Regions from separate parts of the Homo sapiens genome. Here regions 1 and 3 are each linked to region 2. The links come from fine-mapping of genetic effects on gene expression. A gene starts in region 2. Each other region holds a variant in brackets. All regions are shown on one strand. Distances are between the middles of the regions.

Region 1 (10,821 bases), 86 kb before region 2:
CCCCTCTGTTGGTACTATTGCCAAGGTATAGAAAAGAGTATAGTCTGTTTGACAGCTATTATGCTTTGTTTAAATGCAATTTTAAATGCAGGAGTTTCTAAGTGTGTTATTCATGCCAGTGATTTCTGCAAAAAATAAACATTTTGTAAAACTGCTAAAAGACTTCACAAATTGAGCAAAGCAAAGAATTTTTTGCAGGACAAGAGGCAGCAGAATAAATTCTGAGAACTACCTAAAAGAACTACCTAAATTCACTCAGCGATGGGTACTCATTAAAAGTGCAAACTCTTGTGTTTAATCCAATACCTACTATATTAGAATCTCTTGGGGCCAGGAACCTAGAATCTGTATTTTAATAAGTACCTCAAGGTGATACTTTTCCACCTTAAATCAGTGAAAGTCAAATGAGAGAAGAATTCCCAGGATCAGGCCCTCAGGAATATCATTTAGAGGCCATGTAAAGACGATGGAAAGGACGAGAGAGGTTATAAAAAAGCCATCAGAGGCAGAAGATAAGCCAGAAGACAAGTGTCATGGAAGTCAAGAAAATGAGATTTTTTTCAAGGAGAAAGAGGCCAACTTAGATGAATAGTAATGTGTAGACTTGTAAGATGAGAACTTAATGTAACCGGCCTTCAGCTCCCAGCAACTTAAAAGTTTCTGTTTGATTTGGCAACATAGAAATAATTAATGACTTACTGTCACCAATTTCAGTCAAATGCTAGAGATGAAGGTCATAATAAAGTGGGCTAAACACTGATTGAAAAGAAAAACTGAGAACAACCCAGTACCCATCAAAAGGAGAATACACTTGTAAATATGATCAATTCACCCTATGAAATGCTATGTAAAAGTAAAAATGAATTAATTACAGCCACATAGTGCAATGTAGAAAAATCTTGATAGTATGAGTAAAAAATTATGTCTAAGAAGGCTACATTGAAGCAAGTCTTCATGTAATTTCAAAAATAATTAATATTAAATATATATTTTACACATGAATAATTATTTGATAAAATAATTTTAAGGTAAAGGAAATAATAAACATAAAATGTCAAAACTTGTTCCCTTTGATGTCAGTTAGACAGAAGAATGTGTTTTTAAAATCTATTGCACAGCATGATGACTATAATTAACAATAATGTAATGTGTATTTCAAAATTCCTAAGAGAGCAGATTTTAAATGCTCACACACACAAAAAAAAGTATTTGAGAGATAGACATGTTAGTTATCCTGATTTAATCATTCCATAATGTATACACATATCAAAACATCACACTATACCTCATGAATGTATACAATTACTATTTGTCAATTAAAATAAAATAAAAAGGAAAAAAATACTTGGTCCCTCTGAGGGATGGGAATGTAGGGGAATCGTATAAACAAACAGCACATAGAGATAGGTGAACATGTGTTGTTTCATTCCACATGTGTTTATAATATCATTTCTATCACATGTATTTATTATATCATGTAAAAGTAAATACATGGGTTCTGTTTCTGGCATGACAGCCTAAGAAGCTCCATGGAGTCCCCCCTCCCTAATGCTAGAAAAATTGGTAAAAAAAAAAAAAAATTTATGGAAAAAGAGCAACCATTTAAAGTCTCTGGAAAGGATCCTAAGGGCATACATCAAATGAAGAAATATTTGTTCAATAAAATCTACTAAAATGTGGTAAGAACAGCAAGAGCCCGCGGTTATTTCAACCAAGACCTATTCTTCCCTTTCTTTCCGCCCTCTCCTCCCCCGAGCTCTGTGAGATGGAAACTTCTCTCCAGGCTGGGACAGCTGAGAACACAGAGTTTTCTCTCCTACCCAGCTCCCAGTCAGAGGGCTCTGTTCGCAGGAAAGGCAGGGTGTCAGCGTTTCTCATCATTTCCCCAGCTACCTGTTGTTCATTTGAAGTTCAAGGTGAGTATAGCCAAGAGGTGCATGCTCCCTTCTTCTGTCCAGTCCCTACTTATAGGAGAGAGGCTCTATATTGTGTTAGATGCCACTGAAAATACTGAGCCACTAATCACCCTTACCCTGGTTCAGAGGTAGAGTTCATACACAGGGAGAGGCAAACCAAGAAGACTTGAGACCTCTGTCTGCCTCCAATGAGTGCTCAGCTCCTAAAGTGAGAGTGTGACTCAAAGAGAAGCACACCATTGTCCCCCGACTCCAGAGATTTTACCTAAGGGGAGAGAGCAGGCAGAAAAACACATATCCCCTAGCCTCTTTCCCATCAACAAAAAAACTGTCTTCATTATCAAGAGAGTGTGGAAAAATTCAGGCCTAAAAGCACCCTAAGAAACAGTGGAAGTTGTGGTGAAAGGCAACTGGGAGGAGACTGGCAGACGCATTGTACATACAGGCTACGCTGTCAGCTAGCTAGTTTGCCTAAGAGAACCAAGGAAAGAGACAGCTGGGAGGAGCCCTCTTGTGACAAACAATAACAACAACAGCAACAACCTTCAAACATTGAATTCAGAAACTATCCCTTTAAAGGTGATCAAATTTGATTGGGTAAGTCTGTGACACAGTTTATACCCAGGGCATTGTTGAAAACATGAATCAACTACCAAAATTACTGTCATCCCAGAGTGGCTATGACCACACCCAAGCCTGAAGAGCAACATGAAAGGCTTTGGACTGCATGGGAAGAATAGATGCCACTATAGTAATACAGTCAGTCAGTTAAATTTAAAAAAAAGAAACAAAAGAACAATAACAAGCCCCATAAGGGGGTGACCAGTGCTGAGTTGCTATATTATATAAAATGTCCAGATTCAGCAAAAAAAAAAAAATATGAGACATGCAAAGAAACAGGAAAACGTGACCTACACACTGGGAAAAAATCAGGCAAAAGAAACTGCCTGTTGAGAGGAACCAGATGTTAAGTTTAACAGATAAAGTCTTAAAAGAAGCCATTGTGAATAACTTCAAAGAACTAAAAGAAACCACAATTAAACAAGTAAAGAAATGTGTAATCACAAGGTCACATCAAATAAAGAATGTCAATAAAGATGTAACAATTACTAGGAAGGAGGAGGAAGAGGAAGAGGGGAGGGGGGAAGTCAGAATCCTGGAGTTGAAAAACACAACTGAAATGAAAAATTTATGAGAGAGGCTCAATAGTATATTTGAACTGGCGGAAGAAAGAATTAGAAACCTTGAAGATAGATTGATAAAAATTATGCAATTCAAGGAAAAAAGAAGAAATGAAAACAGCTTCAGAAAAGTATGAGATATTAAGTCATCAACACATACATAATGGGAGTACTAGAAGGATTACTACTAAACTATAGTAATCAAGATAAAATGGTGTTGATATAAGAATAAGCAATGGAATTTAGAGTCCAGAAATAAATCCTCACATTTATTGATTTTTTTTCACAAGGCTACCAAGACAATTCACTGGGCAAAAGAACAGTTTTTTCAACAAATGGTGCTGACACAACTGGATAGCAACATGGAAAATAATAAGTTAGACCCCTAACTCATACCATATATAAAAATTAACTCAAATTAGATCAAAGACCTAATTACAGGAGCTAAACTGTAAAACTCTTAGAAGACATAAAAGTAAATCTTTATGACCTCAGGTTTCACAATAGACTCCTAGGTATAACAGCAAAACCTAAATAGCAAATGAAAAATAGATAATTTGCACCTCATTAAGATTTAAAACATTTGTGCTTCGAAGAACACTATCAACAAAGTGAAAAAACAACCCACAGAATAGAAGAAAATCACTGATCACAAATCACCATAAAATACATGATAATAATGAAATTGAAATATTGCAAGAATTACCAAAATGTGATACAGGGACATGAAGTGAGTGCACGCTGTTAGAAAAATTGTGCCAATAGACTTGCTCAATGCAGGGTTGCTACAAACCTTCAATTAAAAAAATAAAAAGCAGTATCTGTGAAGCTCAATAAAGCAAAAATGAGGTATGTCTATATTTGCTTACTGTTCCAACCTTTAAAAGTATTAACTTATTTAATCCTCAAAACAATCCTATGAGGTAGGTATAATTAATTTCCCAATTTTTCAGATAAGAAAAAATGAGGCTTACATTAAATAAACTGCCTAACATCACAAAACTAATATTTGGAGGAGCCACCTCCCAAACAAAGGCAAAAGATGCAAATAAATCATTTAACCTAATCTTAGTATTATTACCTTAAATCATAGACTTATTTATAATAGTCTGTTAATCTGTTTTTTATTTCGAATAATATTCTAAATGAATACTTCATGTGTAATTATTTGTTGTTTTTGTACTTGTAATTCTCAATTAGAAAGTTATTTTACTAGATAAAGCAAAACTTGAATGGTGTACATCTATCTCTCTGACCATTTAGACTATAAAGCAATAGTCCACATATCACCCTCCTCAGGTTGATTAAAATGTGTATTTGTGTATGTTTAAATGTATTCATAAATACTTCTCTTATTCTACAAAGATTTAAAATGACTTCCGGGAAAGAAAATAAAAAATATCAATATATGAGTTAAAAATGTCAAGACAAAAAAATCTAAATTAGATTAAAAGATCAAGCCTCCAGATAGAAGCCTCTGGGCTTCTTGCAGGAGTGACTTTGAGCAGAGCCATGATGTATACATGAACCATTAAGAAGCACATTCTCAGAGTAAACAGGGGTGCACAATATGAAATCTCATACTGATCACATATGCCAGTGTGATTGCAGGGTTTATTTTTAGGAGTTTCATTTGGGGATCTTTTTCCAAACTTCGTGAGGCAGTTTTTCAGTTGTTTCTCATTGACCACTGATAGCTGGATGTGCCATTTTAAGCTTGATGCTAGATATATCAAGTTTACTTTTCTGAGTGTCTTTATAAAATCAATTATGACAGTATCATTTCTCTGATTTAATATGCTTCTCAAAACATTTTTTCTTTATTTTGGCACATTTTTTCTACTGTTTATTATCATGGGGAAATGAATCTGGAGAGCATTTTACACAAAATTGTCTGGTTTCTGGAACTCAATACATTTTATAGTGCTTGAAACATTTCATTGTCCGTGCTGGTCATTTTGCTTTCCTCAAACATAAACTTATATTGATTCATGATATACGATGCTCCTTTTTCATTATTCCAGCTAGGTGCACTTTCAGATTCTTTTTTCCCCAAAGTTTACTCTTCACAAAAGCATTAAATATAGCATGAGATGGAGTTCTGTGACTTTGTCACAAAAGTAATAATTTTCAGCTAAGGATGCAGTTTCAGTTTTTATTATAGTCCACATTCTGAATATTATATTTGCAGATTTGTGTCAACTTTCCCCACGTCTTTTCTCAAGAAATATATTACACTAATGTTGGCAACTTATAAATCTAGAATTATTATGTGTAAAAAATATTCTGAAGAAAAGAGA[T/C]ACTGGTACCTAATGCTATCCTTAAATGGGAACATAATGGAACTATACAAATATTAGTCAATTAAAATTTAAACCTGAAGCTGGAGAACCAAGTGACAAGGGTAAGAAAGATACTATTTTTCCCAGGAAACCAAATAACTTGACTTTAGGTCAACCTTGTGGAATGCAGTCAGGAAAAACAAAATAAGAAATGAGATGCAACTGGCACGAAGACACTGCAGGAAAAAAAAAAAGTGGCTCAGTAACTCCAGAGTAAGAAGAGGATACAGGTACACATTGCCCCTTTATTACATGGAAAGAAAAGCAATAATAGCAAATACCTAAGAGCCATAAGTTTAAAATTGTTTTGTTGAGGATTTTTTTTTCCAAACTGAGTCAAGCCTCACCGCTGAGATGAAAAACTTAGAAAAATGGCTAGTACCTTGAAGAAACTATCTTAAGTGATATCAATATTGTGAATTCCTATTGTACTTATTGTCTAGATACGCTAATTTAACAAAAACATATATTGTCCTGATTTTTATCTGATTGTTTCATACTTAAACACACATACTTACACCTGTATGTTAGTATATTCTAATTTGATTATAAATTTCTTGAGTGGGGAAATGATTTTATACTGATTTGACATATACCAGTTTTCAACTCAGAACAAAGAAGATAGCAGATAGTCCAAAATATTTGTTAAATTGAATTATGATGGGTAAAACATCTGATTAAATGTATGAAAAATGCCTTTCAGGAGATCTGACTTTCAGAAATGTAAAATATAATACACTGTAGCAGCTTCTATTTAATCTCGATTATTCTGATGATGTCTTAGATATATATTTTCATTATAAACTTAAGGGCTTTTAGTTTTTAATTTTTTGTTAAATATGAGGGAAAACGCAGAAAGATTTAGTCAAAGAGGGACTTTTCATTGAAAAATTGTAGACAATCAGTTTGGATTGTTCATAATTTTTAAAAAATCAGCATTCATTGTATACCTCATACAACCAGTGGACATAAAATGATTCAAGTACAGAAACAAGAGCTGCTATACCCAGAAAAGGATTTTAACTGCATTTCTCAAGGGGAGCAATGGCAATCATTCGCTTTCAGCTCTGACCCAACCTAGGAGTTCCTGTTCCATCAAAAAAGCCTCCCCAGCCCGCTAGGCAGGCAGAATGCCGATCATGAAGAACACAAAGACAGCATGCAGAGAGCTCAGAAACAGAGCTTCAAGATCTGAAAACCCAAAAGGAAGTCACTCCCAGGGTGGTAAATTATCAATACTAGAGACCAGCAGATAACAAAAAGAAATCACAGAAGAGCTGCATCCTTTCGACAGGTTAGTGAGCAGTATATTTATAATGTAGATTTAAAGCTACCGTATACCAATGGCCTGATCTTTTTTTTCTTTTTTGTGATTAGTAATAAGGGCCTGGATCTAGAGGTGGGTATAGCCCCATGAAAGACAGCACAAGACAAGGATGGTTTAAGACATACTGAAGATTATTCTAGACCAGGGCCAGCTAAAACAAAGACACAAATTGAGCCCAGCCAGAAAACAAACAAAAATATTAGTTACAAGATATTATTGTTCATCATATACAAGTATCCTGAAGTGGAGGTATTGTAGTGTGGTGGACTGAGTGCACTGAGCAGAGAGAGTTGGCTCAGATCCTGGCTCTGGTGCTTTCTATTTGATCCTGGAAACAGGAAACTAACCATCCTGTGTCTCAGTAGCGCTTACTTCACATGCTGTGAAAATTACATGCAGTTATTTGAAAGCCCATACTCTGGTAAGTGGACAGCAAGTAGTACCTGTTTTTATTATGTTCTTTATCCTGTTGTTATAGTTATTCTTCTTTTGAGACAAATGAATAGGATTTTGTTCATGGTTCTCATTCTCTAGTGTCACTTCAGTTACTTTCAAATATGCCTAAGTTTTCTTTGTAAATCCAGAGTTACAGTTACATCTCCAAAGTCAAGAAGCAAAATGAGTAAGTAAATCCTACTCCATAGAGGTGGCCTAACAAACCAGTGCCTGTTCTGGGATGCCATTGAAAATAATGGCAGGGGTTTTCACTATTTTTCTCAGCCTTTGTCTTGATAATTGTAAGAGTCCAGGAGGCCAGTGATGATTATTGGAAGGCATAGCAAAAGCACCACTGTTTTATTACAATTTTTAGATCCAAGAACATTAGACATCAGAATCTTTAAAATACCCTGTGTAGAGGGTTCAATATAAACTACGTAGTAAATGCTATTTCATCATTGAAGAAAGAAGGAACAGGAAATTATACAGGTCAATCAACTTCAAAATAATCATGTTAATTATTAAATAAAATAATGCGCTTGTTTCTCTTCAAATGATACTAAATAAAGCTAAATCCTAGACTCTATAGTAAACAGCATAATGTGAATTACAGCAAAACACTGAAGATTCAGATTTGACACTTTTAAGCCTCTAATTGACATACCATCATTTGATAAGTGAAGTTGCTCAATTACTGTTACTTCCTTTGAACTGGTGCTACTTTAGAAGACACAATTATCAGAAACGTTTGACTGTCACTGTCACTAAGTATGTGTTATTCACTTTTGAGAAGGGGAGTTAGAAGATCTGGAGCAAAAATGCCAGACAGTCAGCATCACTGAACCCCTTGCACCTCTACACTTTGCCCTCACCTGCTTCCACCTCACTGTCTCCTTCCAGAAGGGAGTGATGTTCCTGCAATGAGTCATTTGGGCTCAGTGCATTGCAACCCTGAACTCTTGGAAGACACTTTTCTCTTCTTGATCTGTTTGGCTTAATATGCGCATCAAAAATGAAATAAAATAAAACAAAAATAAAGAAGTAATATAAGGCCCAAGAGTAAATACTAGACCACAGCTATCATAAAGAAGAGTTCAGCCAGGCACGGTTGCTCACTCCTGTAATCTTAGCACTTTGGGAGGCCGAGGCGGGCGGATCGCTGGAGCTCAGGAGTTTGAGACCAGCCTGGCCAACATGGCGAAACACCAGCTTTACAAAAAATATAACAAAAAAAAAAAAATTAGCCTGGTATGGTGGCACACGCCTCTAGTCCCACATGCTCAGGAGGTTGAGGAGGGAGAATCACTTAAGCCCAGAAGGTCAAGGCTGCAGTGAGCCATGATCGCACCACTGCACTCCAGCCTGGGCAACAGAACAAGATCCCATCTCAAAAAAAAAAAAAACAGTTATGTTTTCTACTGTGTGTACATGTGTGTGTGTCAAGAGGGAAGATTCTGCTGGTGATTTAACTACTCTCTTTAAGTACTATTCATGCAGCTATGTTCCCATAGAACATTCTACTCTGGCTTCAAATTTGTTTACACATAAAAATATGTCTTCAGATTTAATTTGTGATGTATTCTAATAAGCATATATCGAAAGAATCACCTGGTTATATGCCAGTGGAGTGATTACTTACTGCCCAGTTACTTGCACAGGGCCACATTTTTCAGTTCCTGGAAATAGAGTTGGCAACATTACCATTTTTTAGAATTACCTATTTGCCCAAAATAGTGTATTTTTACTATGCCAATTGTAATTTGATAGAGAAAACGACATTTGGTTTCAGAATTTCTCAAATCTAGCAAAGATTTCAAACACTTCTAACAACAAGTTTAAGAACAAGAAAAAAAATGACTAAAATAACTTACTTCCACACTTTCCACAGGTTTCTTGCAGAAGTTAGAACTAAGAAGACTTTTCCTTAAAAACTATTCGTTTGAAAAGTTTGAACGACTGGATGAAAATGATTGACAGAATGTTTCCTTCAAAATAAGTGACTGCCACATATAGCTCAGTGCCATTCACAGGGAAAGCCCTTAATAAATGCCTGTTGATGGATGTATATATTTTAAGTACATATTCCATTAGCATCACTGTTCTACATTCTTTGTACCATAACATTCCAATTAAACATGAAGTGGCAGTATTTTGCAATTGTGGCTTCAGGTTCAATCATTTAGCCAGTCGACAAACATTTATTAAGTTCCTGCTACGCATTTATTTATTCACTCAATGCCTGCAGTACGCCAGGCACTGGCCTTAGCTTGGGAGACTCAACAGTGTATCCAATTGAAAGTTTCCATTTCCTCCAGAAATTTGCAGACTGCTGATGACAGAGAAGAAATAAACAAGGAAGCAAATAAATACATTTGTAAGACTATTCAAGTATTGCTAAGTGCATAAAACCGAATAATGAGATACAGTTTGACTTGAAGGAGAGGGAAGACCCACTTTAGGCATCAAAGACAGAAAAAGTTTCTCTGAGAAATTGGCTTCTGAAATCAATATAGTTAGCCATTCAAATACTTAGAGAAAGAAATTTCCAGGTAGACAGAAGAATTGGGGTAAAGGCATGGAAATGAGAATGATTTTAGTTACATCAAGTAACAAAAAATATATAAATGGCTGAAGAAAATGATAAGTATTTTGATTTCATCTTAACTGCAATGAGAAGACATCTGAGGATGCTCTTAAGTCCAGTTTATTAAAGAATCCTTTGCCCACACACACAAAGCACTCACTTTAAGGATACAGTTAATAAGTTTTAGCAAATGTATAGAGTCAGGTAACCAACACCCCACCATCATAATTAAAATATAGAATATTTCCATCACTCTAAAAAGTTGCCTCATGCCCTTTTGCAGTCAATCACAAGCCACTGGAAAACATTATAATTCTGTCATATAAATGGAATCATAAAGAATGTCAAATAAATAAAATCTTACAGTATACAGTATGCAATCTTCTGGCTTCTTTTACTTAGCATAATGCTTCTGAGATTTGTCCGTCTCATTGCATGTTGATTTTGAGATTCTACTGGATACCTAACAAGCAGTGTTGATTCAGCAGCTAAGTATAGAAGACTACACAAAAGACAACAAGTATTGACAATGATGTGGAGAAAAGGAAACCCATGTTGGTGGGAAGTAAATTGGTACAGCTATTACAGAAAACAATATGGAGGCTCCTCAAATGATTAATAGAACCATTCTATGATCCAGCAATTCCATTTCTGGTTCTATAGCCAAAGGAAATGAAATCAGTATCTTGAAGAGATATCTACACCCCCATGTTCATTGCAACATTATTCACAATAGCCAAGATACAAAGTCAACCTAAGTGTTCATCAATGGATGAAAGAATAAAGAAAATGGGTGTATATACACAATGGAATATTATTCAGCCTCAAGAAAGAAGGAAATTCTGCCACTGGCAACAAAATGGGTGAACCTAGAGGACATTATGCTAAGTGAAATAAGCCAAGCACAGAGGGACAGATATTGCAAGTTCTCCTTCATATGTGTAACGTAAAAAGTTGAACTTATGGAAACAGAATAGAACATTTACATAAGTTAAACTTATAGAAACAGCATTACCAGGGGCTGGGAGGTGAGAGA
Region 2 (10,821 bases):
TATTTTATACTGTATGGGGAAAATAAACCTTCAAGGATGTGTCACAAATGTTATCAGTGGTTTTATCTCACCTGAGATAAAACCATTATAGGTGATGTTTTTCTTTCTTCTTTTTTTCTTTTTTACTTGTCTGTCTTTTCTCTTTTTTCCCCCAGTGAGCATGTATTTGTTAAAAAACATACATTAGAAGTAATATTGCATAGAGTGGATTCTGTCCCCATACTGCCTAGGTTTGAATTCCAATTTTTCCTTTACTGGAAAAGTAAGAGACAGTGTGTCACTCTGTCACCCAGCCTGGAAGGCAGTGGTGTAATTTCGGCTCACCTCAGCCTCAACTTCACAAGCTCATGCAATCCTGCCACCTTAGCCTCCTGAATACAGGCACATCCCACCATGCCTGGCTAGTTCATTATTATTATTATTTTGTAGATATGGGTTCTCCTTATGTTGCCTAAGCTGGTCTCAAACTCCTGGGCTCCAGCGATCCACCCAGTTTGGCCTCCCAAAGTGCTGAGATTGCAGGCATGAGCCACCGCACCCACCCCAATTTTTCCTTTTAAATAGGTGTAAATGTACCTGTAAAATGCAGTACCTACCTCATCAGCTTTTATGGAGGATTAAATGTGGTAATATTGTAAGGTAATTAAAAAATATGCACATGGCAAACGTTACATAAATATTTGTTATTCAGTAGTTAGGAAAGCAATGATCTTATTTCCATTTTGAGAAAACGCTGATCAGTATTTAAACTTCTCAAAGAAGACAAGATATTGTCATAGATGTTAGCAATTTTAAATGAGGTCCACAAAAAACAACAAAACTGAAAAGAAAAGCAGCTCACCATTACCCAACTTACTGAATTGAGGTAGTTAAACACACAGGCCCTTAAGGCAGAATAGGACTGAGTTCTAAGCTTAATATCCATACACATAGCTCTGAGACCTTGACAAGCCACACAACCTCCTATAACTCAGATTCCTCACCTGTAAAAAATGAAGACAACGTAAGGCACTAGAGATAATAGAAACCATTGGTCTTACAGCGCTCTTCCGTAGATTACTTAAAATAACCTATATGAAGCACTTAGCATGTTGACTAGCAATTAATAAGATCTTTATTAGTGTCAGCTATTACTATTATCATTACCAATTACTGCTCTTTAAAATAAGTCAGAGACCAAAATGAGTCTGAGAAAATATCACAGAGGCTAAAACCCCAAGATGAGACAGACTGTCAAAACAAGGCCAACAGAAGATCCTAAGAAAGAAAAAAAAAAAAGCAAATATCTGATCCAGCAGATGTTGCACAGCAATGGATGCTAAGATAACAGAGAGCAGGGATTCCAGCTCAAGCATAAAACTTGAGGAGACACTCAATTAGAAGGACTCTAAAAATAACAATAGAAAAGGAGAGCAATCATTTTATCCACACGATACCCTGTATGGTTGGTATTCTTGTCTCTGTTTTACAGAGAAGACAGATTCAGAAAGGATAAATACCTTGTTTAAACTTGTACACAGAGAGAGAGAGAGAGAGAGAGAGAGAGAGTGTGTGTGTGTGTGTGTGTGTGTCAGGATCCTAGGCCAAACATCAAAGAGAACCTGTGTTCTGTGCAGATGTCTTGTAAACCTTGTGGTAGTTCTGCAGCAGCTATCATTCACAGGCAGAGTAAATAAGAACCCACTTAGCAAAAATAAGGTATTACGTGGTGATAATAGAGTTCAATTTCAGATTAAGAGTCCAACATCCAGATGGTTGAGCCTCCAAACTAGGGTCTGTCTATATCACTGCAGTGCCAAGCCTAGATTAAGTGAGAACCCATATATAGGTGATCCCAGCTGAGGAGACCAGAGAGATGGCCTAAGAGGGTAAAACGGGCCAGACCTGCTACCCTGGTTTATTCGTACCACTTTCTAATATGTATGCAACGTTTTCATAACACAATGAGGTTTCTTCTCTTGTGCAACTCAATTCCAAGAGTATGTGAGTCAAACTCAAAGGCAACTTCTACATTCTTCTTTTCATTTCAGGAAGAGAAAATACAAAGTGCAACTCAATTCCAAGAGTATGTGAGCCAAACTCAAAGGCAACTTCTACATTTTTCTTTTCATTTCAGGAAGAGAAAATACAGAGTGTGACTATAGGTGGACTAGACACTGTATCGGAAAGGCGGGGTCTAATACTAACATTCTGTCTATTGCCCTCTCATTTCCACTTTCTGCTTAGGCCAACAAATGGGCACTTTGATTTTCGACATTTTCAACAATTTATTAATCCCCAGGATGGCCAATAGAGGGCAGACGATCTCTTCTTCTAGACCTCCATCAGAAATACTTCGTAATTCCTGGTTCGTTGCAGACCTGTTCCCCAACCCCTCCCCCACCCCCCCACCACCCCCACCCCAAACTTCGATGACTCCCTCCTGCCCATACCATCCCTTTCAAGTACTGATTTTGAGGTATTTACTAAAACCAAGAGAGAAGGGCTGCAGACAATAATATTCAAATATCATTTTGACTGTAATTCTTCACTCTCCCTTTTTCAACTCATTCATGCATGCATTTTTATAAATCCTGCCCTCTCCAATAAGCTGACAAGCTAATTGGGTTCAGAGTTATTTAAATAACTATAATGTAACATGATAAATGCTACAAGCAGAGGTACTTACAAATGCTGTAGAACAGATAAAGAAGCTCAAGAAGGCTTCTCAGAAAGGGAGGCCTTTCATGTGTGGCTCTAATTCTTAACATTCGTTCATGACTTTCAGGGTCCATTCAATTTCAGGGTAATTCTTCCTAGTCCACTTTCACCCGTGACACCTGATTGTCATCATGTTGGGCTCACCCAAACTCTTTCTGTAACCATAGTCTGGTCTTTGAAGATAAGAAAATACTTTTGTATTCGAGCCTCAGTATCATTGCCTCAGCTTCTCACTACCTCATTATCATCCCTCCTGGATCCCAGAGAAGAAAGAGCTGTTTCATAACTGAGCTCCTGATTCACACACTGGTTTCAGAAAAGCTGCCAGGACCTTGCAGGTTTCTCATTCGCCACTAGTCACTGGCTTCAAGGAATCCTATTTTCTCTATTGCTTCTATGACTATTAATTTTATGCCAAAGGGCATGTGTAATGTAACTTGATTTTTTTTTTCTTTTTGAGCTGATACAATCATCTTCATCTTAAAGAATCTCCCTAGTCCTTTCTAAACCTGACTTGAATTCCTGTGAGAAGTCAACCTTTCTCATGTTGTATCTGTCCATCTACCTTCCAGGTGGTTCTACTTCTGAAGTCCCAGGAACAATGAATAGTCATCTCCAAATTATCCTTTGCCTGTGCTCATCTGTAGCTTTCCTTAATCCTTAATATATCCCCTTAAAAATAAATAGAAGCTAAACTTTGACAATGCTTATTACCTCCTTCTTTCCTAACCACAGTAGCTTTCTCACTTCTGCCTTTTTCTCATCACCTGACCTTGGCTTTTCCTGCAGGTCCTACAATGTTATCTGCTACATTTTAATGTCTTTATACTTGCATTTGAACAGAAATACAGATAACCTCCTCTGCAAGAGTGGGAGGGACCTTTTAACACAGAGCAATGATGACAGTTTGTTGGCAAATCCCACACTGAAGTGCTGGTGCCTTGTTCGGTGACAAGAAAGAACAATGTTTAACAATGTGTGTTTTATTTTTCTTCAGTTTTTTTGTTTGTTTGTTTTTGAGACAGAGTCTTGCTCTGTCGCCCAGGCTGGAGTGCAATGACGCAATCTCGGCTCACTGCAACCTTCACCTCCTGGGTTCAAGTGATTCTCCTGCCTCAGCCTCCTGAGTAGCTGGGATTACAGGCATGCGCTACCACACCCGGCTAATTTTTGTATTTTTGATAGAGACAGGGTTTCACCATGTTTCACCATGTTGGCCAGGCTGGTCTCGAATTCCTTACCTCAAGTGATCTGCCCACCTTGGCCTCCCAAAGTGCTGGGATTATAGGCATGAGCCACCACGCCCAGTCTCTTCGGTTTTTCTAATAGAAAACCTAGCATATTTTAAACGATTTTGCCACTTAACACTTATTATGGACCCACAGGGTATGAGGGCCTTTGGAGATCATCTAATCGGACTTCCCACCCAACTACAGGAATCATTTCATTGCAACAACTCTTTAAACCCGTCTAGAAAATGCAATGCTCTCTCCCCTTTTCCACGGTTGAACATCTTCCTCATGGCCCTATAATAATCAATGATAATTAATGAGCCTCTTCCTCTCCTTGGACAAAGAAATATGATAGGAGAAATGTTTAGTTTGCTGATGCCCATCATGGGGGAATAGTCCACTGGTAACTCTGGCTTTTGGGTTCAGGATTAGACAGAGTGGTTAAACTAAAATATTTATCGTAAGTATGAATTTGTTCCACAAACATAACATTTCAAAGGTAGCTTTGTTTCCTCTTTCCTTGCACTGCCAGCTATTAACTTTCGGTTCATTAGTCACGATTTTCAGAATCCACTTGGCTGCCACCTTCCTGCAGCCAGACCATCTTGGATCAGAGGGTGGGCCAGCCATTCCCACGTCACACCTGCCACGGGATCGATTTTTTCCCCCATTGACCACAGTCACTTTTTGTCAATTAATTAATGTTATTCACCTGGTACCCATCTTGTGAATGGTAGGTCACTACGGAGCGGATTACTACTTCATATCCCATCAATGACAGAGCCATCATTACGAAAACCTTTTCTGACAACCACTGAAGAGAAACCATCTCCACACCGTGCATTTTGCATCACTTCCGTTGCTTCTTTACCTGATTTATCACAAAGACTATGTACCACACATCTTCTTTATTAATGCATTGACAATCAGTGAAGACAATGAAAACCCACCACTTTTGTCCGTGAACTGAGAAAGAAAATGGCAATGTCATATGGCATTAATGATGCATGAGATCTATGGGTGTAGTGTCACGTCTAGGCGTGTAGTAATCCAGTCTTCGGCCTTACTCCAGGGAGAAAGATTCAGCTTTGTTACTTTCCAGTCACTCTCTCCCGTAACACAGCACCTTGGCACAGAAAGCAGAGCGACAAAACCCAGAATGAGGACAGTTAAAATTCAACTCAAGCTACAGCCATCCCAACGGTCCTCCCCAGCTCCCGCGGAATATTTACCAAGACCGTTTAAAGCACTTAATTAATTCACTTCAGCTTCGCTGGAGAGGTCTCAGGGTTCCCGAGACTCCATTACATAATATCTTTCACAAAGTCTATTCCCAGCTCGAATGGAAGATGGATTCTCATCCAGTGTGCGGAGGTTCCATGCCTTTGCTTCCCTTTCCCGGAGTTCGATCCGGCGATACCCTCCCGAGGCTGCAGCCATCGCCCCGGCCCCGAGCTTCTGGGGTACCCGCCACTCTTCGAACTCCAATCTGGCCCCGAAGGTGCAGCCGCCTCGCCCTCCTGGCTCCCAGGCCGGCCGCTGCGGCCACGGTGCCAGCGAGCGCCCGGGACACCGCGACTCTCGCTGCTCGCTGGGTGCGCCCCAAGCCCATCCGCAGCGCACCCGCGGCGCCGGGGCCAGAGCCGCAGCTCGGTGGCACGGCCGGCTCGGTGCGCCGGGCTCGGGGAGGAGGAGATCGGGAAGAGGTGGAGGCGTGTGAGGGAGGGAGGAAGGGCCCGGCCGCCCGAGAGGGGGAGGGGGAGGCGGAGGGGGCCGGCCGGGCCGGGGAGGGGGGGCAGCCAATGAGCGGCGCGCGGCGCGTGGGGGTGGGGGGAAGGTCTGGGGGAGGAGGTAGGATGGGGGAGGGCGCAGCCCGAGCGGCTGAGGCTCCAGCCATAAACAAGCGCCCGGAGGAGCGGCGCAGGAGTGAGGCGAGCGGGGCGCGCGGAGCGGACGCCGCGGATCTTGTGCTGCGCCACCGCGCCCACTCGGCAGCTCGGGAGGCGGGGACCGGCCCGGAGGCTGCGCCGCTGCGGGGCCGGCCGACTCGGAGGAGGAGAGGGAGGAGGCGCCGCCGGCCCGGGCTGGAGCCGAGCGCAGCAGCCACCGCCGCCGCCGCGCCAGAAGTTTGGGTTGAACCGGAGCTGCCGGGAGGAAACTTTTTTCTTTTTTCCCCCTCCCTCCCGGGAGGAGGAGGAGGAGGAGGAGGGGAAGCTGCCGCCGGCGCCAAGGCTCGTGGGCTCGGGGTCGGCGCGGCCCGCAGAAGGGGCGGGGGCCTCGCCCCGCGAGGGGAGGCGCGCCCCGGGGGCCCCGAGAGGGGCGGTGAGGACCGCGGGCTGCTGGTGCGGCGGCGGCGGCGCGTGTGCCCCGCGCAGGGGAGGGCGCCCGCCCCGCTCCCGGCCCGGCTGCGAGGAGGAGGCGGCGGCGGCGCAGGAGGATGTACTTGGTGGCGGGGGACAGGGGGTTGGCCGGCTGCGGGCACCTCCTGGTCTCGCTGCTGGGGCTGCTGCTGCTGCTGGCGCGCTCCGGCACCCGGGCGCTGGTCTGCCTGCCCTGTGACGAGTCCAAGTGCGAGGAGCCCAGGAACTGCCCGGGGAGCATCGTGCAGGGCGTCTGCGGCTGCTGCTACACGTGCGCCAGCCAGAGGAACGAGAGCTGCGGCGGCACCTTCGGGATTTACGGAACCTGCGACCGGGGGCTGCGTTGTGTCATCCGCCCCCCGCTCAATGGCGACTCCCTCACCGAGTACGAAGCGGGCGTTTGCGAAGGTACGGCCGCCCGCTGCGGGCCCCCTCCCACCTGGCCTGCGCCGCCCCCTCGGCGCTGGTTGTGCCGAACAAAGTTTGGGCGAGACTTTCTGGAGGAAAGAGGGCTCTGCGGGAAGAGGGGCGGCCGCCGCCCCCAGGAGAGTGCCCCCGCGGCCCTGCGTTCCCTCTCCTTGTTCCCCCCGACGCTTAGGCAGTCGCGGGCGAGGTTGGGTATGGTGGGTGGGGGCGAGCGAGTGGAGGATCGCCCCTGTCCCCGCGCAGACGCGCACACGTGTGGCCGTTCCTGCTGGGACTGGGTGGCCCGGCCTTGCTCCCCGAGGTGGGGGCGCCGCGGGCGGGGGGCACTGCAGATTCTGCCGCGCGCGAGCCCCTCGGGGAGCCCGGCCCTACCGCCCTCCCCGCACTGGCGCAGTGTGGCACCGTGAGCCGCACGCCGGCCGCGAAAGTCCTTTTTCTGTTGGCGGAGGAGACGTGTCTCCAGCTCGCACTCCCCGAGTGACTCTTATTATTTTTTCCTTGAGCTCTTCCTTCACCCCTTCCTCCTCCTCCGCAGATAAATCAGTTTCAGCCGCGGAATATGTCAGCCCAGGGGAAGTTACACACGGTGGTTACTCATTTATTTGCCCATTGTAAACGGTCAAAGGCTTTCTCTCCTGAAAGGAAAGGGGGGTGGGGGTTGCACCTGGGAGTAAAAAGTTGTTGCTATTAGTGGCTGCTTTTTAATATCAGATACCCGCGTGTTTCCTGTCGTGTTGCCGGTTCCTCCTTTTTGTTTGTTTGACAGCGGGGATTGTTCTGCTGGCTTCTCCAGCACGCATTGTGCTCCGCGGTGTCGAGATTGACGGTGGGAGAAACAGATTAGATTAGTGGAGTCTTTCTCGTTGGGGAGCCAATGTTAGTGCGTGTTGGCTTTAATCCCTGCCCGCTTGCGTCGGCCTTCAGGGTGCCTGGTCTGGTTTGGGGTCTAGAGCGAGGCAGTGAGTTATTTTGATGTGGCTAACGGGGGCACGGTTCGGTAAGCATCAGTTAAAAGTGGGATCCCTGCTCTGGCTGACGTTGGGCTGATGATGCTGTTCCGGGGGCATCCTGGCGAGTGAGCAGAGCGCACGCAGCAGCCTCGTTTCTGGGGAGGCGGCGAGGAGGGACAGGCGCCCTCTGCCCGGCGTGCCTTCCTCACTACTCACAGCCAGCACCGTCCAGGGAACGGTTTATTCCGAAGCATCTTTGTGTGTGTTTGTTTAGTATGCTGGGATACTGAAAAAGGAGGTGACAGCCTTAAGGATAACAATGGACCTATTAAAAGGCTTCAGTGCTGTGATTCTCTCTAAATACGCACAGACACACACATAGGTACTTATTTATACCTGAATAGTTTGGGGTTTGGACAGTTCAGGAAAATAGGGGAGGGTTTTCTGGTTTGGAAGCTAGTGGGCAGTGATGAGTGAAGGGAACTCTTCTCAGAGGGGAGGGACTTGCTCTTGCTTTGCTGCACACGTAAGACATTGGGTTAGAAGAGATCATTTGCCTGAAGTACAAAAAAGCCTCTCACCTGGTATTGTCCCCTTTTATAACTTGTTTTTATGCCTTACCTCAAGAAAAATGGCCATGAGATTAACTTCTGATACCATTGTATGTGTTTTGACTTTGGGAATTCTGAATGACCTAGACTAAAAGATGCATCTTTGAACCCTGCCGCTTCAAGTGTATAACTTAATCCGGCCTCTCGTAAATCTGAAAAGAACAGGCGACATGAAACACAGTTAAATGCAGTGGAAACTGCTGTGTTCCAAGAAGGACTTTTGCAGGTTCTGAAGATTCTAACCCTTGTTTTGTTTCTTCTTAGTCTGTTTCTGGTGAAGGAAGTGCTCAGGGAACATTTACAGTAATCGAGTGTTGTGGCAGCAATATCCCATGTCACAGTATAGAGTTATTTTGGCAGTTTCGTGAGCCTTTCATTCCTCTGAAATGATGTGATCCCTCATAGCTTCCTTTTTTCTGGCAACACCCTGTGTGCTTGGTATTCGCTTTGAAATGCTTGGAAGGGTTTGTTGACATGATTATATCTCAATTAGTTTCTCTAGAAACACTTTTTATTTTACAGGCCTGTTTTCAACTATCAATATTGTGTGTCCAGGGCACTTCCTTTAAAAAAAAAAATACTGAAAACAGCAGTCAACTTGCATTCTAAATCTGTGAAACCAAAGTAAGGACAGTGTTACCTGGCATGATATAATGGTTGGATTTAGACAGATATTTTCAATCGTGTGTTTACAATTTCAGTGTTTTCACTTAACGACAAGATTTATGGAAAGCATGGGATAAGTGATACCCCAACCGCCCCCCGCCTGCCATTTTTAAAAAAAGAATTAGAGGAGCCTTCAGATGTCAGCAGTTACCTAGAAGGTATTGATTATCTCTTGTTTTTCTGTGAGTTTACAAGAAATTTCGGAATGGCCAGTGTTTCCCTCAGTTTCCATTTTTATTCAGAAATTCACGTGGTGAAGCATGGTTATCATAACTAACATGAATAGGAATCAATATATTTTATTCATGTTGAAGTCTCTTTTGCTGCAATTTTTGCACTAAAATGACCCCTACTGGTTGTATCTGTTAATGAAAACTCTTGAAAACTTATTTAATTGGCTACGTTGTAAAAACATATTGCATGTTATAGAAATATTATCATGACTAATCTCCCTGCTTTCGATGACATAATTTAAATACAAATTATATTCTCTGTTTGCCAACTTGCAGTAATTTTTAGCAGTGTTTACTCTCATACTGGCTTTGTAGGGGAAAAAAATTACGTTTTTAACTGCAGTTCACAAAATGAGTTAGATAAATCATGGGCAGAAATGGGCCCCTTTCAGCTTGTGGCTCACAGCCTTAGGTTTTTAAGGCATGCTGGTCTAGTTGGCTCTCAGTAAAAGTACATTGAACAAACGGAAGAACAATCCTATCCATAGAAAGAATGCTGAAGGAAAAAAAATATTTTCTGAATGATTAAATAATGTGATGAGTTGTGTCCTGTGCACCATGTGAGATGTGCACTTGGATTTCTTTTCCGCATTGTTTAGATTGTTATTAAATAAATTCTAATTGAATTATTCCTTTTGTGGTGGGGGCTGGGGGTGGTAAGTGCATTTGAAAAAATGAGCATGGAGCCTGATACCTAAAAGTTTTTCCTACTTTCTGTCAGTCTAGAAAGTGCTTTTTGGAACTTAGGAGAGTGCAGGTCTTTTTCCTCTTTCCATTCGTCTGCTAAGACCTCCTGTTGCTCTTTGCAGCATCCTAACTGGCCTGTTTTCTTGGCCAGGCTGCCTGCCTCCAGGAAAATCACCTAGAAGCCAGAGAAACAAGTGTGGATCCTGAACCCCTGAGAAAGAAATCTGGATGGAAGACATCTTTGGAGGATCGAAGGCAGAGTTTAGAAAAATTAATGAAGTGAGATTTTCTAGAAAGAAGATTTTGATTGGACAGTGAGAATTATGTTTTGAGCTAAGGGGTTGAGAGCCATTTCTTCTCCCATGTGTCATAGCGCTTTATGCTTCTATAAGGAGTGAGGCAAGGTGAGAGAGCATGACCAGCCTCTCTGGGCAGTTAAAGGGCAGATGGTGACTTGCTTTGGCAGTTTGTACAGACAGAGTGATGAGGAACCAGGTGGAGACTACTTGAGTCACTGTTCCGAGGACTCTGTTGTATTAGATTCAGGTGATAGCTAGATCAGATAAGCACCAATTTTTTTCTTGGTGACTATTTACTCAGTAGCTTCATATTTTGGAACTTAGCATTCCATCTTTTTCACCATTGCTATCTAAAAACGACCTCTTTCAGAACGCAATCCTCCTTTTATTTCCCCCAGGAATTTTAACTGTTCCTTTTACCCATTTTTCATTGGGCAGTGTGTAAGAGAACTATGTATACATAGTGGGGTACTTACAGCAAAAAACAGAATTTTGTTTCCTGAAACTTGCCATGCAAAGTTTCTTTGCTTATCCCTGGAAGACAGTCAGTGAAGATGATGGCTGCTTGGAAGAAAATGTATGCGGGATCTGCTCCAGAAAGCAGGCTGCAGGAGGCCAGATAATGAACCCAAACATTTCATTCTGCACAAGCCGCAT
Region 3 (10,821 bases), 120 kb after region 2:
TCTGGCCATCAAAGTGAAAAAGGAGATAGGGTCAAATACGCTGTTCTTATTTTCAAAGAGGAAAAAACCTGCTGGATGGGACAACTGTCTCTCTAATAGAGATTTTTCATATGGAAAGGAATGGATTTCATCCCACTGAATGATGAAGTTGATCATGTGCTTAATTGCGTTAACACCACAAATGCAGAAACTGGTTTCCTGGGATTGTTCTCAATAAAAAGCAAAGGCAAAATATTAAAATACAACTCAGTTCCAAAAGGTCAGATTGACACAGCTAGACCGTAGGTGCTTGGAACATTGTTTCTCAATTTTGCAAACTGCCCAACCATGGTGAGGTAGATCCAAAGACCCCAGTTCAGAAGACTGTGGGTAGAATGTTAACATGACTGACCCCACATGCAGAAATGGATTATGCACTGCCGCACTCACTTCCTATGCTGCCATCCATGTGATCCATATGCTTATGTTTTTTTCTTTTTAAAATCAACTTTAAAGTGAAAACATACAATTTTAAAATACACAGAACTCGAAAACTCGTGAGTTTTGAAAACACTAGCCTGATGAGTAGATGCAGAGAGAGCATCCTCCATAAATATTACTTTGTTTTTGTAGTTTGATTTTATTTTGTTGTGGCGGAGGGATGGGAGAGTTGCAGACCAGTTCATGACAGTTTGTAACTGCATTCTCTGACAAGCGCCGAAAGGAGAACTTATGAGGCTTTGGCTGAACAAGATCCTTGTTATTTAGAAACCAAAGGAACAGGTGGTATGATTATGTTTCTTTTATGTGAACTTAGAAGTCATCAAAATCATCACCTAGAAATATGACCTCCAAAGCAGTGTTGTAACAGCCCTCCACCTTCGTCAAGAACCCACTGTATGTCTGCTCCTGCCCACAAACAAATGTCCCATCAGCCGTCAGCTGGAGCTGGACAATGGCCTCTACTGTTAGATGGGTGGATGCTCTCCACTTAACACAGTACCCCCTGCTGTCTTACACATGGCCCACCTCTCGTTCCTGGAGGCATTTGGGTTTGAAATCCTAGGTGTAGAGTGTGCAAGTGATTATTTGGTTTCTTAGATACGAGCATTTGTCCAACGTATATACACAAACATCTAGATAAAATGGAATATCTTGGTTGGAAAGTCGTAGCCAAAAGCTGACTCTGTCTGTATGACCTACTTATAAAACGTTCCCCAAGTGAGTAAATGAATTAGTCTATAGTATTGTTATTGGATAGAAGCCAGTTGAAACTACCAGAAATATTTTTAGCCTTACGGTATTTAATACTGAACCATTTGTTCTGACAGCATAGTTAGCAGGGCCAGATATATATTGAGGCTAGCCCCCATTCACAGCTCTAAACAAGTCATCAGCACAAAAGAGGAAGAGTACCCTCTTCCCAGTGGTGCCAAGAGTGGTGGGTGGATGGGGTGGGGATGGGAGCATTACTTGTGTATGGCACAACTAGCCAAAAGCAACTTCAGGGGGTTATGAAGTAAGTTCAGAGAAAGGGGATCTGAATACAACTTAGCGTGTGTTTTTAGCCTGTTTTGTGCCATTTGAAATACTTCTGTTTTGGAGCACTGTCCCTGTAGCACTCTGCTTCTCACAGCAGTATTAAAATGCAGCACTAACAGTGAGGAGCCTGGATGAAGGTCATGTTGCCCACCCAGTAATTAGTTCCTGTTTTATTCAGGCATATACGAAAGGCTAATAAAAACTGGAAGTAATCTTATGTTGGCCCTGACAGAATTTTCTCTAAGACAGTAACATGTGAAATCACCATTTAAAGGGGAGCCGTACCCAGCATCAGCTTGCTCCTCATGTAAAATTTTGGCCTAGAAAATTCAGACCTGCAGGCTGTTAATTTTCAAAAAAAAACACTAGTACAGAAAACATTAAGAACCCACTGTCTATATAGCAATTATGCTCATAATGTTTCTAAGGACGTAATGTCTTCTACTGATAGAATAATGGAGATATTCTGGCACTTTGAGAGCAATACTCCACTCAGTATGTGTTTATTGAGCACCCCTCGTGTTCCTGGGGCCTTGTTAAGCTAATTTTGTTAAAGAGTGATACACATTGTTGTAATCCTTTCTAAGGGTTGTTCTCTTCCCCTTTTCCTGAAATAGGATATGCTTGGTGTCCTCCAGCACACACACACACTTCCCCTCTTCTCCCTGTGGAATAAGCCAATTGAAACTAGCAAACATATTTTTAGTCTTATAGTATTTAATACCGAGCCATTAATTATGAGAGTATAGTTAGCAAGACCAGATATTTATTGAGGCTAGTCCACATTCACAACTTTAAGAACATGTCATCAGTATAATTAATAAAGGGAAAACTTAAGGATTTAAAAACACACAGAACTCAAGAACTCCTGAGTTTTGAAAACACTAGCCTGAATGAACAGATGGAGAGAACATCCTCCATGAATAGTCCTTCTCTTTTCACTTTGGTTTTAATTTGTTTTGGTGGAGGGATGGGACAAGCTGCATGTCGAAGCTGCAGAGAGTTATCTAGAAGATTTAGCTATGAAAAGTGATGAAGGTGGCTACACTAAACAACAGATATTCAGTGTAGAGGAAGCAGCCTTCTATGGAAAGAAGATGCCACCTGGGACTTTCATAACAAGAGAGAAGCAGTCAATGCCTGGCTTCAAAGAATAGGCTGATTCTTATTAGGGGCTAATGCAGCTGATAACTTTAAGCTAAACCCCACGGCTGTTAAGAATTATGCTAAATCTACTCTGCCTGTGCTTTATAAATGGAACAACAAAGCCTGGATGACAGCATGGTTTATTGATTATTTTAAGCCCACCATTGAGACCTACTACTCAGAAAAAGAGATTTCTTCCAAAATATTACTGCTCATTGACAATGCACCTGGTCTCCCAAGAGCTCTGATGGAGGTGTACAAGATTAGTGTTGTTTTCGTGCCTAACACAACATCCATTCTGCAGCCCATGGACCAAGGAGTCATTTCAACTTTCAAGTCTTGTTAATTAAGAAAAACATTTCATAAGATTAGCTGCTGTAGATAGTCATTCCTCTGATGGATCAGAACTAAATCAATTGAAAACCTTCTGCAAAGGATTCACTCACCATTCTAGATGCCATTAAGAACACAGGTGATTCAGGGGAAGGTGTCAGAATATTAACATGGAGTTTGGAAGAAGTTGATTCCAACCCTCATGAATGACTTTGAGGAGCTGAAGACCTCAGTGGAAGAAGTAACTGCAGATGTAGTAGAAGGAGCAAGAGAACTAGAATTAAATGTGGAACCTGCAGAATGTGACTGAATTGCTGCAATCTCATGATAAAACTGGAAAGGATGAGGAGTTTCTTCTTATCGATGAGCAAAGAAAGTAGTTTCTTGAGATAGAATCTACTCCTGGTGAGGATGCTGTGACAACATCTTCACCAGATAAAACGACAACCAGGGATTTAGACTATTACATAAATTTAGTTGATAAAGCAACAGCAGGGTTTTAGAGGATTGACTCCAGTTTTGAAACAAGTTCTACTGTAAGTAAAATGCTATCAAACAGCATCACATGCTACAAAGAAATCTTTCATGAAAGGAAGAGTTAGTCAATGTGGCAAACTTCATTATTGTGTTATTTAAAGAAATTGCCACAGCCACCCCAACCTTCAGCAACCACCATCCTTATCAGTCAGCAGCCATCAGCATCAAGGCAATACCCTCCACCAGCAGAAAGATTACTATTTACTGAAGGCTCAGATGATCGTTAGCAGTTTTTAGCAATAAAGTATTTTAAATTAAGGAATGTATATTGTTTTTTAGACATAATGCTATTGTATACTTAATAGACTATAGCAGGGGTGTCCAATCTTTTGGCTTCCCTGGGCCACATTGGAAGAAGAAGATTGTCTTGGGCCACATGTAAAATACACTAACACTAATGATAGCTGATTAGCTTAAACACACACACACACACACACACACACACACACACCATCTTACAATGTTTTAAGAAAGTTTGCATTCAAAGCCATCCTAGGCCTCATGTGGCCCGCAGGCTGCAGGTTAGACAAGTATGGACTACAGTACAGTGTAAACATAACTTTTAAATGCACTGGGAAGCCAAAAAGTTTGTGTGACTTGCTTGAGCTGGTCTGGAACTGAACCCACAATATCTTTGAGGTGTATCTATCACCATCCACCAATCAGTGTAGTTTGGTAGGCAGTAGCATGTACTAATAGTCTATATTACAAAATTCTCTTTTAGGAGTTCTGAAGTATATTCAAGAAGGAAGGGAAGATCCCAGAACTTAGAAACTTAAAGTTTAATTTTGCAGACGCAAAACACATACAAAAAATCACTAAAAAGGCACTTCTGTGCTTCATATTGAGAAGTACAAATTACACAGTAAATTATTTCTTCATAACACTTTTCCACATCCACTTAAATCATCCTTTTGTGGAGATTGTGGCAATCTCCACACTGTTCTGAGATTCACATCTACCCCTGATAGGTGAAGAAGTAATTGGTCATTGCTCCTCAAAAACCACAGGTAGCCTTTTTATCATATACTTTTCTTAAGAGCCTCTATAAATCTCTTTGAACATCAAACAGATTTCATTGTGTTGTGTGACTTTTTTCACCCTTAAAGATTGATTGTGTTTCCAGGCTGTGTTTTTAGGATTCTCCATCTTTCTCACTTCCACTCCCTTGATCCTTGTGCTTTTGCTAGTGAAACCTAAGTGCCACAGTTCTCTCGTCAGTCCCATCCCCTCCTGCTTAAGCTTCTGCACACCCTACCATAAAAACAAGTCCACTTGAAGCAGCTTTATTCATAACCAGAACCTGCCCTCCACACTTCCTCAGATCATGCACCAGGGTTGTGGCTTCACCCAGATGGTAGCTGTGGTTGATCAACTCAACCAAATAATTAGTATTGATTGGTTTATTTTTTTTAGTTTCCATGGATGTTCATTTTGTTAGAGTACAGTATTTTGCCTCGCTCTACAGCCTGCAAATTTAATGTATAAAAGTACTCCGTTTTCTATACTTTTTGGAACTTATAGTGTAGCTGCACAATTCCTTTCAATCCCAACTCAGATTAGTTTGTTAGCTAAAAGTATATAGAAGAATTCTGAGCCATGGTAAGATGATTCTTTTTTAACATTAATTTTCTGAAAAAATGTTGTATCCATGTAGCACTAAGGAAGGAGTTTAAACATTCACATGTAGTACGTGTGCACACATAAAATCACTGCCTCATTCATGTGACTTTAAGCAAATCACGTCATCTCTTTAAGTTTCATCTTCATTATCGAAAAAACTGGTACTAATAATACTCGTTCTGTCTTCTTAGCGGGGTTGTTATAAAATAAATATAAAGTAATTGTCCTTGAGTACAATGCAAATGCAAATATCCTCCAAATGCGGTGAAAGTATTTTAGACATGCAAGGGGACATATTAAATGATTTGGGGATGGACAGAAGAGCCCTTGAAAGATGGGGATATCATCATCCAGCTTTCACCGGCAGATTGAGCAGGGCTCATCACCTCAGGAGAACTTTCTTCAGCTTGGGAGTACTTTTTTTAAAAATAGCTTTAGGAGACACCATGCAATTTACCAACTTAAGTTGTGCAATTCTGTTGTTTTCAGTGTATGCTCAGAGTT[C/G]TGCAATCATCAACACAATCAGTTTCAGAACATTTTCATCAAGCCATCAGAAAACTCCTGAACTGATTGCAGTCACTGCCCATTTTCCCCCTAAGCTCTCAGATCTAGGCAACCACTAATCTACTTTCTATCTCTATGGACGTGCCTATGATGGGTGTTTCATATAAGTAGAGTTATATAATATTAATACCTTGTCTTTTGTGACTGGCTTCTTTCACTTAGCATAATATTTTCAAGTGTCATTCATGTTATATTGCATATCAGAACTTCATTTCTTTTTATGGCCACGTAATATTTTATTGTATAGATATACTACTTTTTGTTTATATATCAGTTAATGGATATTTAGGTTCGTTCTTTCTTGGCTCTTGGGCTGCTAGGAACATTTGTTTATAGTGCTTTTTTGTGGGTATATATTTTCATTTCTCTTGGGTATATACCTAGGAGTAGAGTTGCTTGATGATATGATAACTCAAATTAAGGAACTCACAAACTGTTTTCCAAAGCAGCTGTGCTTTTACATCCTCACTAAAAATCTATGAGAATTCCAGTTTCTCCACATCCTCATCAGTGCTCGTTACTATTTTTTAATTATATCCATCATAGTGGGTGTGAAATGGTGTTCATTGCAGCTTAGATTTGAATTCCCCGAGTGACTAATGATTCGAGCATCTTTTCATGTGTTTATTGTCCATTTCTGTCTTATTTGAAGAAGTGTCTGTTCAAAGGTTTGCCCGTTTTGATTAGATTATTTTTATCGTTTAATTATGGGAGTTCTCGGTACCAGTTTTTTTAAATCAGATATATGATTGCAAATACTTTCTCCCAATCTGTAGGGTTGTCTTTTTACCTTTTTGATGGTGTCCTTTTAAGTCCCAAAATTGATGAAGTCCAGTTTATCTGTTTTGTTCCTTTGTTGCTTATGCTTTGAATGTCACATCTAAGAAACCACTCCCTAATCAAAGGCCACAAAGATTAACTCTTATGCTTCCTTCTAAGAGCACTGTAGGTGTAGCTGTTGTATTTAGATCATAACTCTATGATTCATTTTGAGTTAATTTTTGTATATGGTGTGAGGCATAGGGTTTTCTTCTTTATTCTTTTGCATGTAGATAATGCAAAAGACTTTCAACCTCAGGCCTGGCATGGTGGCTCACACCTGTCATCCTAGCACTTTGGGAGGCCAAGGTGGTTGGATCACTTGAGGTCAGAGGAGTTCAAGACCAGCCTGGCCAACATGGTCTTTACTAAAAATACAAAAATTAGCTGGGCATGGTGTCATGCACCTGTAGTCCCAGATACTTGGGAGGCTGAGGCAGGAGAATCACTTGAACCCAGGAGGTAAAGGTTGCAGTGAGCTCAGATGACGCCACTCCACTCCAGCCTGGGTGACAGAGTGAGACTCTATATCAAAAAAAAAAAAAAAAAAAGACTTTGAACCCCACTGAGTCTTGGCCATCTTGTCAAAATACCTGTAAATGTGATAGTTTATTCCTGAACTCTCAATTCCATTGAACTATATATCTATCCCTGTGGCAGTACCACATAGTCTTGATTACTATAGCATTGTATTATGTTTTGAAATTAGGAAGTAGGAGTTCTCTAACTTTGTTCTCCCTTTTAAGATTGTTTTGGCAATTCTGGGTCCCTTGCATTTTCATATGAATTTTATGATCAGCTTATCAATTTCTACAAAAGAGCCAGCTAGGAGTTTGATAGAGATTGCATTGAACATGTAGATCAATTTGGGGAATATTTCCATTTAAACAATGTTGTCTTTCAATCCATGAACACGGGATGTCCCGTTTACTTAGGCCTTTTTAGTTTTTTGAAAATGTTTTGTTATTTTCAAAATACAAGTTTGTACTTATGTTATTACATTTATTCCTAAGTATTGTATACTTTTTGATGCTATTGTGATTGGAATTGTTTTCTTCATTTTCTGATTGTTCATTGCTAGGGTATACAAACACAATTTGGGGAGTTGCAATTGTACTCTGCAACCTTGTTGAACTTGTTTATACATTCTGATAGTTTTTTAGTGGATCCCTTAAAACTGTTTACATACAAGATCATGTCATCTGCAATTAGAGATAGTTTTACTTCTTCCTTTCCAATCTGGATGCTTTTAATTTATTTATTTTTCCTAATTGCTCTGGCTAGAATTTTCATTACTATGTCGAATTGAAGTGGTGAGAACACACCTCATTGTCTTGTTCCTGATCTTAGGGGGAAAGCACTTGGACTTTTGCCATTAAGTATGAGGTTAGCTGTAGGACTTTTGAGGATGCCATTTATCAAGTTGAGGAAGTTCCGTTCTATTCCTAGTTGGTTGAGCATTTTTATCATGAAAGAATATTAGATTCTGTCAGATGCCAAAAACTGTGTCTATCGAATGATCATGTTGCTTTTTTTCCTTATTGTGTGACATATCGTATTAACATTAATATTTTGGATGTTAAACCAACCTTGCATTCTTGGAATAAGTCTCACTTGGTCATGGTGTATAATTTTGTTTATATGTTGCTGGATGTGGTCTGCTAGTAATTTTTTTTAAGATTTTTGTGTCTACATTTATAATATACTGATCTGTAGTTGTGTTTTCTTGTCTTGGTGGGAGTTATTTTAAATCAACTAAAATTAAAGAATGAATGTAGGGAGAGTGTTTCAAGGCAGAGAAAAATTTAAAAATCATTGATATCGTGATGAGACTTCTAAATATGGGACTATGAGTCCTCAGCAGAACATAACCCTGAAGCACAATGGAAGGAGCACAAGGTTTCAGTTGAAGAGCTACTGTTTTGGCTTCTGTCGTTTGCTGTGTGACTTTGAGTAAACTACCTAGGATTTCCTCACTTTTAAACTCAGGATAATAATACCTATGTCAGACCTTCATTATAGGGATTAAGTGAGGTGATACATATAGAGAGTATTTTGTTAAAGGCCAAACACTATTAAAATTATACGTGTTTATACCATGTACAGAGAAAAAGAATTTAAGAGAGAGCACTGGGGGAACAGAACATCACCACTTCAAAAAAGACCATAATAAAATTTTTGAAGCAGAACAAAACCTAATGTGGAGGCAGGATCATTCATTTGAGGTAGACAATGATTTAACCAAACAAATAGAATCACTTTAAAGCACATACCAGATATGTGAGTGTCATGGTCATAAAGTTTAGCTTTGTCTGGGATGGAAGGAAGTCAGTGTAGATTTTCCTAGGGGGAATTTCTGTTCCTTGGTGTAAACTGGATAACAGTGTGTTTTATTTTATTTTGTTTTGCTTCACTTTATTGTTTTCTGTTACATGAACTTACATTGAGTTGAGTAAATTTCCATCAACTTATAACCTCCTATTAGAAATTTTCTAGAGGCTGTTTGAAAAACATCAAAGGACACAACTAAAAAATGACTACAAATATGCCTTGTTTGTTTTAACTCTTTTCAGATACAAAGCCAGCCTGCGTATTTAACAATGTGGAATATTATGATGGAGACATGTTTCGAATGGACAACTGTCGGTTCTGTCGATGCCAAGGGGGCGTTGCCATCTGCTTCACCGCCCAGTGTGGTGAGATAAACTGCGAGAGGTACTACGTGCCCGAAGGAGAGTGCTGCCCAGTGTGTGAAGGTAAGAAAAGGTGCTAATTACAGATTAACAGGAGCATACATGGTATAGAGTTCTAAAATCAAAATCGTCCTAATTCAGTCTCATCCAAAAGTAAAGGAATATTGAAGTTCCTTTTTTAGCCTTTTTTAAGACACCATGGTCTGTCTTTTAGCATGTTAAAGCCAGGTAGAGTGTGTGGAAACACTTCCCTAAGGGAAGCTATGCCTGGGTGTAGACAATGGGTCACCTCTTTCCACAGGCAACGTGAGATGTCCCAGAGTTGTTTTCCGTTCCTCCCCTGCAGTTCTAGCAATTCCTCAGCAAGTCCTAGGGCAAAGCTTTATCTTCACCCTGGCATTAGAGCTCACCACCTCCTCACCTCAGATTGCTCAGTTAGGATAATGTGGGCCTCACCCTGACAGTCTCAGCCTGCCGGCCCAGAGAGGAACTAACTCTGCCACTGTCGTAATACCCAGGACCCTCCAGGGAGATCAGGGACCTGCTACTGCTTCTCTGAAAATATGTGGTGGTTCACATGGGGTCGTGGTATCAGGTCACCACCTGGTGACACCAACTCAAGGCCCAGCCAGGTGTCAGGTGTGACTCTCAGGAATCTGCTTTGTCTGGATTCCCCTTTTCTCTCCAAGAAGTAATATGTTCATGTTCCTTCAACAGGCTGCATCTTCCCATCACTGATGTTCATAAACAATAAGCATTTCAAAACAGTTGCTCTGAATATCACTCCCTGCAACCCACACATTTTACAGATTAGGATGTTGAAGTTCAGAAGAGAAAAGTCACTTGCCTGTAAAGTCACTTTACACTGCAGCCAGTAACAATAACCCCGTGCCTGACTGTGTCTATAGTGTTCTTCTGACAACACAACACTGTTTCCCCAGAAAGGAAGGTCTTGTGAGCCTTCCTGTCCTAACCAGGCCCCAGATCTTCAATCTGAAGTCGCATGTGTTAATCTTATGCCTGATCTCTGCACACAAAGTGGGAGGGCACAGTGTCATGCCACTTTCCATACTTCCTCATTTTCATAAAATTTTCTCCTTTTGATATTTGAGCAATATTTACAACATAATATTGAAGATCTGAAAATGTTTAAAGTATAAAAATTGCATTCCTAACATAGTTCATAACAGTGAGTTCTTTTCCCTACTAGAGGTTATTTTACCCAACATAGGAGAAAAGTAGTTTATTTTTTAGGTGATGTTGACAATTAAAAAGAATTACTTCAAATTTTTAACCTTTCTAATTGTTTTGTTCCCTACCTGCCCCCAGTCTGCAATAGTTCTGAAACTGTGCAGCAGTTGATGCTGTAAAAATGTAGATACGAACCTCTGTGTAGTCATCATACTGAGTTGTCTGGGCATGGATCCAGTTATGTCTCACTTCCTGGAATTCAGATCCAGGCTCAACGTAGAAAAATATGTATTCTAATACTTTTTACACAGGAATTTAAAAAATCTTCTCTTGCTCAGGTCCATTGGCCGCCTCCCTCTCTGGCAGACTGCCTTCCTAACGCTGTGATGGCATT

Evidence for each region. PIP is the estimated chance that this variant, and not a neighbour inherited with it, causes the effect.
Region 1: its variant is the best candidate, but not a certain one, in a credible set for the expression of CRIM1 in whole blood (INTERVAL, PIP 0.72).
Region 3: its variant is the best candidate, but not a certain one, in a credible set for the expression of CRIM1 in monocytes (BLUEPRINT, PIP 0.58).

The regions. Positions count from the first base shown.
Region 1 is chr2:36,264,352-36,275,172 of GRCh38, forward strand. No RefSeq gene overlaps it. Among named protein-coding and RNA genes, the nearest start is that of CRIM1-DT, 86 kb to the right of the region's middle. RefSeq lists enhancers at 6,207-6,832, 6,833-7,457. The variant T/C (reference allele first, on the strand shown) is at 5,398.
Region 2 is chr2:36,349,924-36,360,744 of GRCh38, forward strand. CRIM1 (cysteine rich transmembrane BMP regulator 1) reads left to right here and starts at 5,855. Exons shown (of 17, transcript NM_016441.3): 1 at 5,855-6,700. The coding sequence starts at 6,370. It overlaps CRIM1-DT (CRIM1 divergent transcript), which reads right to left and starts at 5,647. Exons shown (of 2, transcript NR_037631.1): 1 at 5,165-5,647; 2 at 4,826-5,058.
Region 3 is chr2:36,467,773-36,478,593 of GRCh38, forward strand. CRIM1 (cysteine rich transmembrane BMP regulator 1) reads left to right here. Exons shown (of 17, transcript NM_016441.3): 6 at 9,117-9,299. Among named protein-coding and RNA genes, the nearest start is that of CRIM1, 120 kb to the left of the region's middle. RefSeq lists a silencer at 8,654-8,948. The variant C/G (reference allele first, on the strand shown) is at 5,665.